2 linked regions of the Homo sapiens genome follow. The protein of the gene in region 1 purifies or fractionates together with the protein of each later gene. This does not show direct contact. Each region holds a gene or a part of one and is shown on either strand. Other genes may lie near its edges. The genes, in order: HNMT and PARVA.

The links.
Region 2: the proteins of HNMT (region 1) and PARVA fractionate together in Homo sapiens (co-fractionation; one large-scale study listed by BioGRID). This does not show direct contact.

What each region holds. Positions count from the first base shown.
Region 1 is NC_000002.12:137,963,139-137,967,570, forward strand, and holds the start of HNMT (histamine N-methyltransferase), read left to right. Parts: upstream 1-1,334; 5' UTR 1,335-1,353; coding exon 1,354-1,490; intron 1,491-3,958; coding exon of another isoform or gene 3,959-3,977; exon of another isoform or gene 3,978-4,213; coding exon of another isoform or gene 4,214-4,248; exon of another isoform or gene 4,249-4,293; intron 4,294-4,432. UniProt on the Homo sapiens protein: Inactivates histamine by N-methylation. Plays an important role in degrading histamine and in regulating the airway response to histamine.
Region 2 is NC_000011.10:12,474,911-12,478,726, forward strand, and holds part of PARVA (alpha-parvin), read left to right. Parts: intron 1-2,936; coding exon 2,937-3,039; intron 3,040-3,816. UniProt on the Homo sapiens protein: Plays a role in sarcomere organization and in smooth muscle cell contraction. Required for normal development of the embryonic cardiovascular system, and for normal septation of the heart outflow tract.

The sequences.
Region 1 (4,432 bases):
GGGCTGGGAATGGTGGCTCACGCCTGTAATCCCAGCACTTTGGGAGGCCGAGGCGGGTGGATCACTTGAGATCAGGAGTTCGAGATCAGCCTGGCCAACATGGTGAAACCCTGTCTCTACTAAAAGTACAAAAATTAGCCAGGCGTGGTGGCGGGTGCCTGTAATCCCAGTTATTCGGGAGGCTAAGACAGGAGAATCACTTGAGTCCAGGAAGCGGAGGTTGCAGTGAGTGGAGATCGCACCATTGCACTCCAGGCTGGGCGACAGAGCGATACTCTGTCTCAAAAAAAAAAAGAGAGTTGGGAAGTGTTTTGAATGCTTAGAGGGCAGCTTGGGAACTCAATTAGAAGAAGGGACGGTTTAAGCAGACATATTTCTAAGAGACTTATATGAGTTAACTCATTTGATCCTCAGCACTCCTCCATGAGTTGGATGCTATTATTAACAACCCAATATTAGATAAAGGATGACCTTCTTAAAGACCTCTTCCCAGGAAAAAGACTGTGTGTGGGTACTCTGAAGCTTTGGCTCTTCTGGTGGGGACACCACTGGGTTTCCAAAGGCTCATCCAGCCAAGCGAAGTATCTATGACCTCGTCGTGTTCAGCGCGCTTAGGGAAGGATTCTATGGACTGCACTTTTACCCTGGTGTCCTGCATTCTTGCTCCAAGACTTCTCTTACCACTCTCATTCCCCTAAATGCAGCTTCTGACACCTTCTAGCTACGAGTTCTTGGGCTCCTCCTTCGTGACTTCCTTTTAAGATAATTTCTGAGTTACAACAAATCAGCATTTGAAGAAATGCAGCAGATAAGTTGAAAATTCAAGTGCTGAGGAATGTAAAGGCCCAAAACAATCCCGTAGAAAGCACAGAGGCAGATGACAGTCTTCCGTTAAAGATTTCACTGCTGTAGATTTCTGAGAGTGCTGTGTAGCTGTCCTCTTTATCCTGGTGTTTGCCACTTCGAACAGTCACTTTCCCACTTGGAACTTACTTGTGGCTTTGCTGACAAAACAGGAAGTGATTTGAATACAGTTTGTTTTTATGACCTTTCAACCTCAGGAATTTGAAAAGTTTTAGCAGTGGATTTACAGCCTTGCTTAATACTTCTATTTCTTACAAAACAACCGTATAGGGGTTAAAGTATCAGTGCAAAGTCCCGTTCAAATATTGACTCAGTAATGAGCTCTACAAGCCAGCCTTTGTGGCATGTTAAATTCAAAACAAGCTTAGCATTTTTTTTTTTTTTTTTGGATAGAAACTGGTGGGGGTGGGGAAAGAAAGAGGGAACTGGGAAGAGAAGGAGGGGAACTTAAACCTTGCTTCCTGCTCTGTCTTTCTCAGAAAACCAAATATGGCATCTTCCATGAGGAGCTTGTTTTCTGACCACGGGAAATATGTTGAATCTTTCCGGAGGTTTCTCAACCATTCCACGGAACACCAGTGCATGCAGGAATTCATGGACAAGAAGCTGCCAGGCATAATAGGAAGGTAACAAAAGGGACGTTGTTGTCAAAGGGACAAGCCTCAGACTGGCTGTGCGTCAGTGATAGATGGGTCTCGCTCAGCCTCGCAGGCTGGGCACAGGGATAAGGGCGAATTACTGATAGCAGCTCCCCGTCGTCCCCTCCTCGCTGCCCTGCCCTGCCTTTCTCCTGCAGTGCTTTGGTTCCACGTTTGCTTTGAACACTCAAAGGCTCCCATTTGTGTTGTATTTCCAGCTGCATAGAGATAAGCGTTAACCATTTGAAGGCACAAATCCATGTTCATTTGGGAAAAGATAAGATGCTAATCTTCGAACTCAGATTTTTCAGCCCTCCTCCAAATTTTACATCCCAAAAAAGTCCCAAAGGGAGTCTGGTATGCTTTTCATTAGAATCAAATATAAATAATTGCCAAAGTACGATTTGCCCTGAGGATTGAGTGCCTCAGTTCTCATAATATCCATTTAAATTAATTTTCCTTATCCATTGTTATAGTTATCACTCTCTTCCTCAAAATTGTCTTTTTCTTTCAGCTTAATATTAGCAATGTGTTCCTTAAAAAAAGAACCATTTTCCCATTATCAGTGAAACTCACTGGTTCCTATCCTTCTTGCAGAGTTCTTTTTTTTGGGTGATTAATGTGTTCAATTTGTGCCAGAGCTGATAAGCATTATGAGAGTAACAGATTCCACATGCTAAAGATAATCAAATCACCTATCTGGGGGTGATTTGCTGTAACTCATTCTACTTCAGGAAATAATAATGGAAAACTGGGAAGAAATGACTATGGATCCAATTTGCAAACAGCAAAGGAAAGTGGTATTTTATCTTTTGCTGAATTTCTCTATTGCAGGCCTGAAATTCTTTCACCAGGGCAGTACCTATGTCTGACCAGAGCAGGCATTATTAGATGTACATAAAATTTTATTTCCTTTTCTATTTAACATGATTCAGATTTTAAATGTTAGCTTTCAAAAAATAGGATATTATATATTAAAAATTAATATGTAATAGGATAAGGATGCAAACATCAAAGCAAATAGCAAATATAGAGAACTTCTTACCTAGGAACTAATTATAGTTAACCTCTTTGGGTTTCTTTGCTCATTTCTAAAGTTAAAGGTAATGAGTTAATTTCTCAATTCTTTTTCAGTACTAAAAGTATTTGCTCATGTCTGTAGCTTACCAGATCCTTGGTTTTCTTCAGCCATACACAGTTTGGTTTGAAGAGGTACCGTGGATGGAGATAACATAATCGATGATGAATGACCCCTTCCTTATCTTCAAAGTTTAAATCTAACTGGAAATATTATAAAATCTGTGAAAGACTGAAGAATTTTTAAGGGCACACTGTTTGTCTTATAACAGTAGTATATAGTTAGGAATGATCAGATTCAGTGTCATTTATTTTTTTCCTGAAGGTAATGTTTGAAATAAGATTTAGCTGAAGGACTTTTAAAATTGTTACTTAGAGTTGTCTATAAGTTATGAAGTACCAAAATGTGATTAGGATACTCTTTGTGTATGTTAGGGCAGGGTTTGTTGAGTTTGTGGCTCACTGTGCTAATTGAGTGTGGAGCGAGCCTATTAAATTTTTATTAAAGCAAGACATGCCATATTTTAAAACATCAAATGGTTCTAAAGTGTGTGGGGACTATAACAAACCCCACCCACTCCATTCTTGATTCCCACTCTCCGGAAGCAACCACTTTCAGCACTTTGAAATCTTTTAGTTATTTATGGAATTTTCTTTCATAATTCAAAATAACATGTTATTGTTCTATTTCTTCATTTCGCTGTATTAAAATAGCTAAGTAAGCATGCATATTTCCCACCCTATCATGTCACTATATGTAGTCAAAATTTTGGTTAAATAATTTGAGTGTTTATGTTATTTTGCCTATGTACATATTCTTAATAATTGAGCAATATATTCGACTATGCTTATATTTCCTTTTACGTACAACTTTTTGTTCTCCCTAGAGTTGACTATTGCCTTGATTTTGGTTTCTTTTCTTAGTTCTCCATGTACCTATTACTATTTTGATCCCCAAGCAGATATATTAATCTCCTCTCAATATATGCAAACATATCAAGGAATCTGTTTATTTTACCCCAAGGGAACAACTTTTCTGAAGCCCTCTGTTCTTTTTTTCAGTTTAGGAAGATCTGCTTTGGCCTGCTATACAACTATTAAGGAGGGAATTTATTTCACTTTCTGAGAATCATTTTCTTTCTCCATTATTTGATTCCCTGATTCTATATCTCATGCCTTTCTTTTCTTTGTTTCCTCGGTCCTTTGTTTCCTGAACAATTCTTTAAGAACTTTAAGAGTGAACGAGAGGTAAACTTTTTGAGACTTTGTATGTTTAAAAATCCCTTGGTTCTATGTTAATCGTTTGACTGGATATAGAACTCTATACTGAAAATGGTTTTGTATAATAGATCTAAAGGTACTTTTCCACTGTCTTTTAGATACCAGAATTGCTGTTAACAAATAAAATACTGGCCAGATGTGTTGGTTCACGCCTGTAATCCTAGCACTTCGGGAGGCTGAGGCGGGAGGATTACTTGAGCCTAGGAGTTTGAGACCAGCCTGGGCAACATAGCAAGATCCCATCTCTACAAAAAAGTGAAAAAGTTAGCTGAACAAGGCGGCATGCACATGCTACTCCAGACGCTGAAGTGGGAAGATCACTTAAGTCCGAGAGATCGAGGCTTCAGTGAGATATGGCTGAGACACTGCTCTCAGCCTGGATGACAGAGTGAGAACCTGTCTCAAACAAGAGAAAAAAATAAATCAAATGCTACTCAAAATTCTCATCCTTGGCATGTGGAATAACTTTTACATTGCTATGTGTTTTGTTTTCCCTATTTTGAACTTTTTAGAATCTTCTTACGTCTAGTATTCTGAAATTTTAAAATACTGAGCTGTGAAATGGTTCCTTT
Region 2 (3,816 bases), on another chromosome or scaffold:
AGCCATGACCACGCCACTGCACTCCAGCCTGACCCTGTCTCAAAAAAAAAAAAAAAATAGCACTGGATGTCAGAGTGATTCATTCCCCCATGCAAATCTGAATACACGGTTCCCCTGTGCAAGACCTCTCAGAGTTTCTCATCCACCACAGGTTGCAGTCGACTCCTAAGAGGTGGTGTTTAGACTCCTTGCTCTAGCTGCCTCTTCAACCTGAGATCAGCCACTACCCAGCAACACAAGGATGCCAGAACTGCTGCTCCCAGCAGCCGATGCGTGCTCCCAGCGCTCCCCACCGCCAAAGCCTGGCTAATGCAGTCCACTCTGAGTAGAATGCCTCTCATGCCCCTCATCTGAAAGTCTCAGCACGGCTGCTTGCTCCAGGAAGCTTGCTCTAAACTCTAGTGCCATGGCTCAACCACTCCACGGCTGCTATAACCCTATCCTTAGTTCTGTTGTCGTCTCCACGTAATATTATAGCTTCTCATGCACTTCTCTGTCTCCTTTACTAAATGGTGAGCTTCTTGGGGTTAGAGACTGTCTTTTTTTTCTATCATTGTACCCCAAGGACCTAGCACAGAATGTCACATATAGCAGGTATTTAATAAACATTAGAGGATGGAAGGAGGAAAGGAAGGGTGGGTGGATGAATGGGTAGGAATTTCAAAGTCAGCCAGGAGTATTCAGAAGTAAAATCAAACCCATGTGAGGGTTGGGCCATCTCACTAGGGACTGGAGGACTGAGGGCAGTCATCTCAGAGGAGATGTGTAAATGTCCCTTCTGTCTGCTGAAGGGAGTCTGTGCCCTGACCCCAGAGTTTAAGAGAAAGGAGGCAGCCTTGGCTAGGCCGCCATGCAGCCCCTTGCTCCCCTGGATCACAACCGGAGCCTCACAGGCAGCTGGGCTGTGCATGTTGGGTATCTGGCCTTTCCTGATGCAGTCTGTGCTGCATCCATAGATGACTGCCCCTGCCCAGTGAGACCCTGAGCCCTCACCTTTCTGTGCAGGAAGAAGATGGAACAGTTGAGGTGCAGGCTGTGCCTGCCGCTGCACACTCTCCGGGGTGCTGGGCCTGTGTGGGCAAGGGTAGGGGGAAAGGGGCTAGCCCTGGGCTTGCTCCTATCAGAGGGCGCTCACCATGCTAGAATGGGTATGCTACTACTTGCTCAGGAGACCTCTAAGGGTAAGGACGGTCAGAATGGGCTCCAAATGGTTTAGGCTTCAATGTTGATCTCCCAGACCTAGACCTGCACTCGGGCCCTGTTTGAGAGAGTGAAGGATTGGAGATGCACATAGGCCTGAGCCCTGGGGTGCTGACCAAAGGCACAGCTACCTCCGTACTTCCAGAGGGAGGTTCGATTTTCTAGATCTAGGCTGCTTTGACCACCTTGAAATCCTACTCTTTCTGGTCAACTCCTAGTTTAAGAGTCTTCTTAGGAGCTGGGCACAGTGGCATGTACCTGTAATGCCAGCTACTTTCAGATGAAGGTTTGAGGCCAGAAGTTCGAGGCTATAGTGCACTATGATTGCACCTGTGAATAGCCACTGCATTCCAGCCTGGGCAACATAGCAAGACCCTGCCTCAAAAGGAAAAAAAAAAAAGTCTCCTCAAACACAAGGCTTTCTGGAAGCCTCCCCTCATTCCTGATCTCTCCTGCCCACTCCCAGCCTGTTGGGGCCTCTTCTCTACTCTCTCATAGCACCATGTCCTCCCCACCCCAGGATTTGAACTCTTTATGTTATAATCCTTTGGTTGACCGGTTTTCTGCCCCCATAAGCCTCTCCAGGACAGAGGCTGGGTCTTACTCTACTGGATACAGTGCAGTGCCTGGTATACAGTAGGTATTACAGTTGCCATCCTCTTGCCTTGGGACAGCAGAACAAAAGCCTCCAGACTCCAACATCAGCCCACCCAGGGATGGCAACGCTGTCTGGCTATTGCTGTGTTATAAAGGCAGCATACTTATGCTAAGGCAAAGACGTCCAACACAAAGGACGATGTCCACTTATAAGAAATTGGAGAAATGTCAAAACTGTAGTGGTTCCCCCAGGCCTGTGGTCAGGGATGAGGATTGAGTACAAAGGGACCTACGGAAGCATCCTACTGGGGAGGGAACTGTTCTGTATCTCGATTGTGGTGGGGATTAAACTACTGTGCACAATGACCAAGACATATCACTGTATACTTAACTTTTTTTTTTTTTTTAGATAGAGTCTCACTCTGTTGCCCAGGCTGGAGTGCAGTGGCACGATCTCGGCTTACTGCAGCCTTGACCTCCCGGTTCAAGCAATTCTCCTACCTCAGCCACCCAAGTAGCTGGGATTACAGGCACCTATCACCACGCCTGACTAATCTTTGTAGTTTTAGTAGAGACGGGGTTTCACCATGTTGGCCAGGCTGGTCTCAAACTCCTGACCTCAAGTGATCTGCCCGCCTCGACCTCCCAAAGTGTTGGGATTACAGGTGTGAACCACCACGCCCAGCCTAAAATTTTTTTTATGGCCGTACACTGTGAGTGTTGCTTGCCATTAGAGTAAGGAATAATAGGGGACATAGATATTAACAGGGACATGGCACTAGCAGGATATACATCTGAAAATTAAGAAGGCCAGTAGGGCTCACACTTACAGCTACCTGTGCACACACTGGGTTATGTGGATAGTTCTCCTGCTTTTAAAATCTGAAGTTCAAAGCAGGGCACAATGGAACACTCCCATAGTCTCAGCTATGCAGGAGGTTGAGGCAGGAAGATCACTTGAGCCCAGGAGTTTAAGTCCAGCCTAGGCAACATAGTGAGACCCCATCTCAAATAAAATGAAACTTAAAATCTAAAGTTAATTTGGATTTTAATTGTTTAGGATAAGAAAGCTGGTCTGTAAGAAAATACCCCATAACTCTTTTCTTACTATTGCACATTCCCTTTCTCTCTCTCTGTAGGTATTAATTGACTGGATTAATGATGTGTTGGTTGGAGAAAGAATCATTGTGAAAGACCTAGCTGAAGATTTGTATGATGGACAAGTCCTGCAGAAGCTTTTCGGTAGGAGAGTTGAGTGCTGCAATGGATGTGTGTTTAATTGCAGGTGGTTGGATCACCTACTTGTAGCTAGAAGGAGTTATTCTCAGTTTACAGTGGCTTACCTGGAAATGGATTACAAATGTGTGGAGCATGGAATAACAGCTCAGTGAAGGCTTTAGATGTCCTCTTGGAATGTTTCATATGAATGAATTGTAGAGGGAGTCTCCATGACTAGGTGGGCCTGCTCCTTCTAGCAGCCAAGAATCATCAGCTAGATGAAAAGACCCCACTGTATATTAATAACTAGAAAGCACGCCTCCGCCTCTCCAGAAAAGCATGCCTGTGTGGCCTCTGTCGGTATATTTACATGCATGGGCCTGAGTATGCATTTTTAGACCTCTGTCACCTTCAGATGCATGTGTGTGTGTTCCTCTGTCATCTGTGGACTTGTGTGTGTGTGTATTCCTCCCTGGGTCACTTTGCAGCTGTTCATGTGAAAATGTAAGGACAATGGGGAGAGAAAGGAGAATTCAGGGGTAATCTTAGTGTTGAAAGGACAAATTTTAGCTTGAATGGAGTTAAGGTGTCCCCCACTGCTCCTAATCTAACTGTGGCCCAAACCGTCCCCTCAGATTCTCGACTTCAATCCTTAGCTGCCCTCTGGGCACCTCTACCTGAATCTGCTTTAGACTGAATTCATCCACTTTTCTAAAGCTGTTTCATCCCCTCTGAGTTCATAGAATCCTCTCCCTTCCTCCTCTGCCCCCATGTATACAGGGATCAGCAAGACCCATTTCT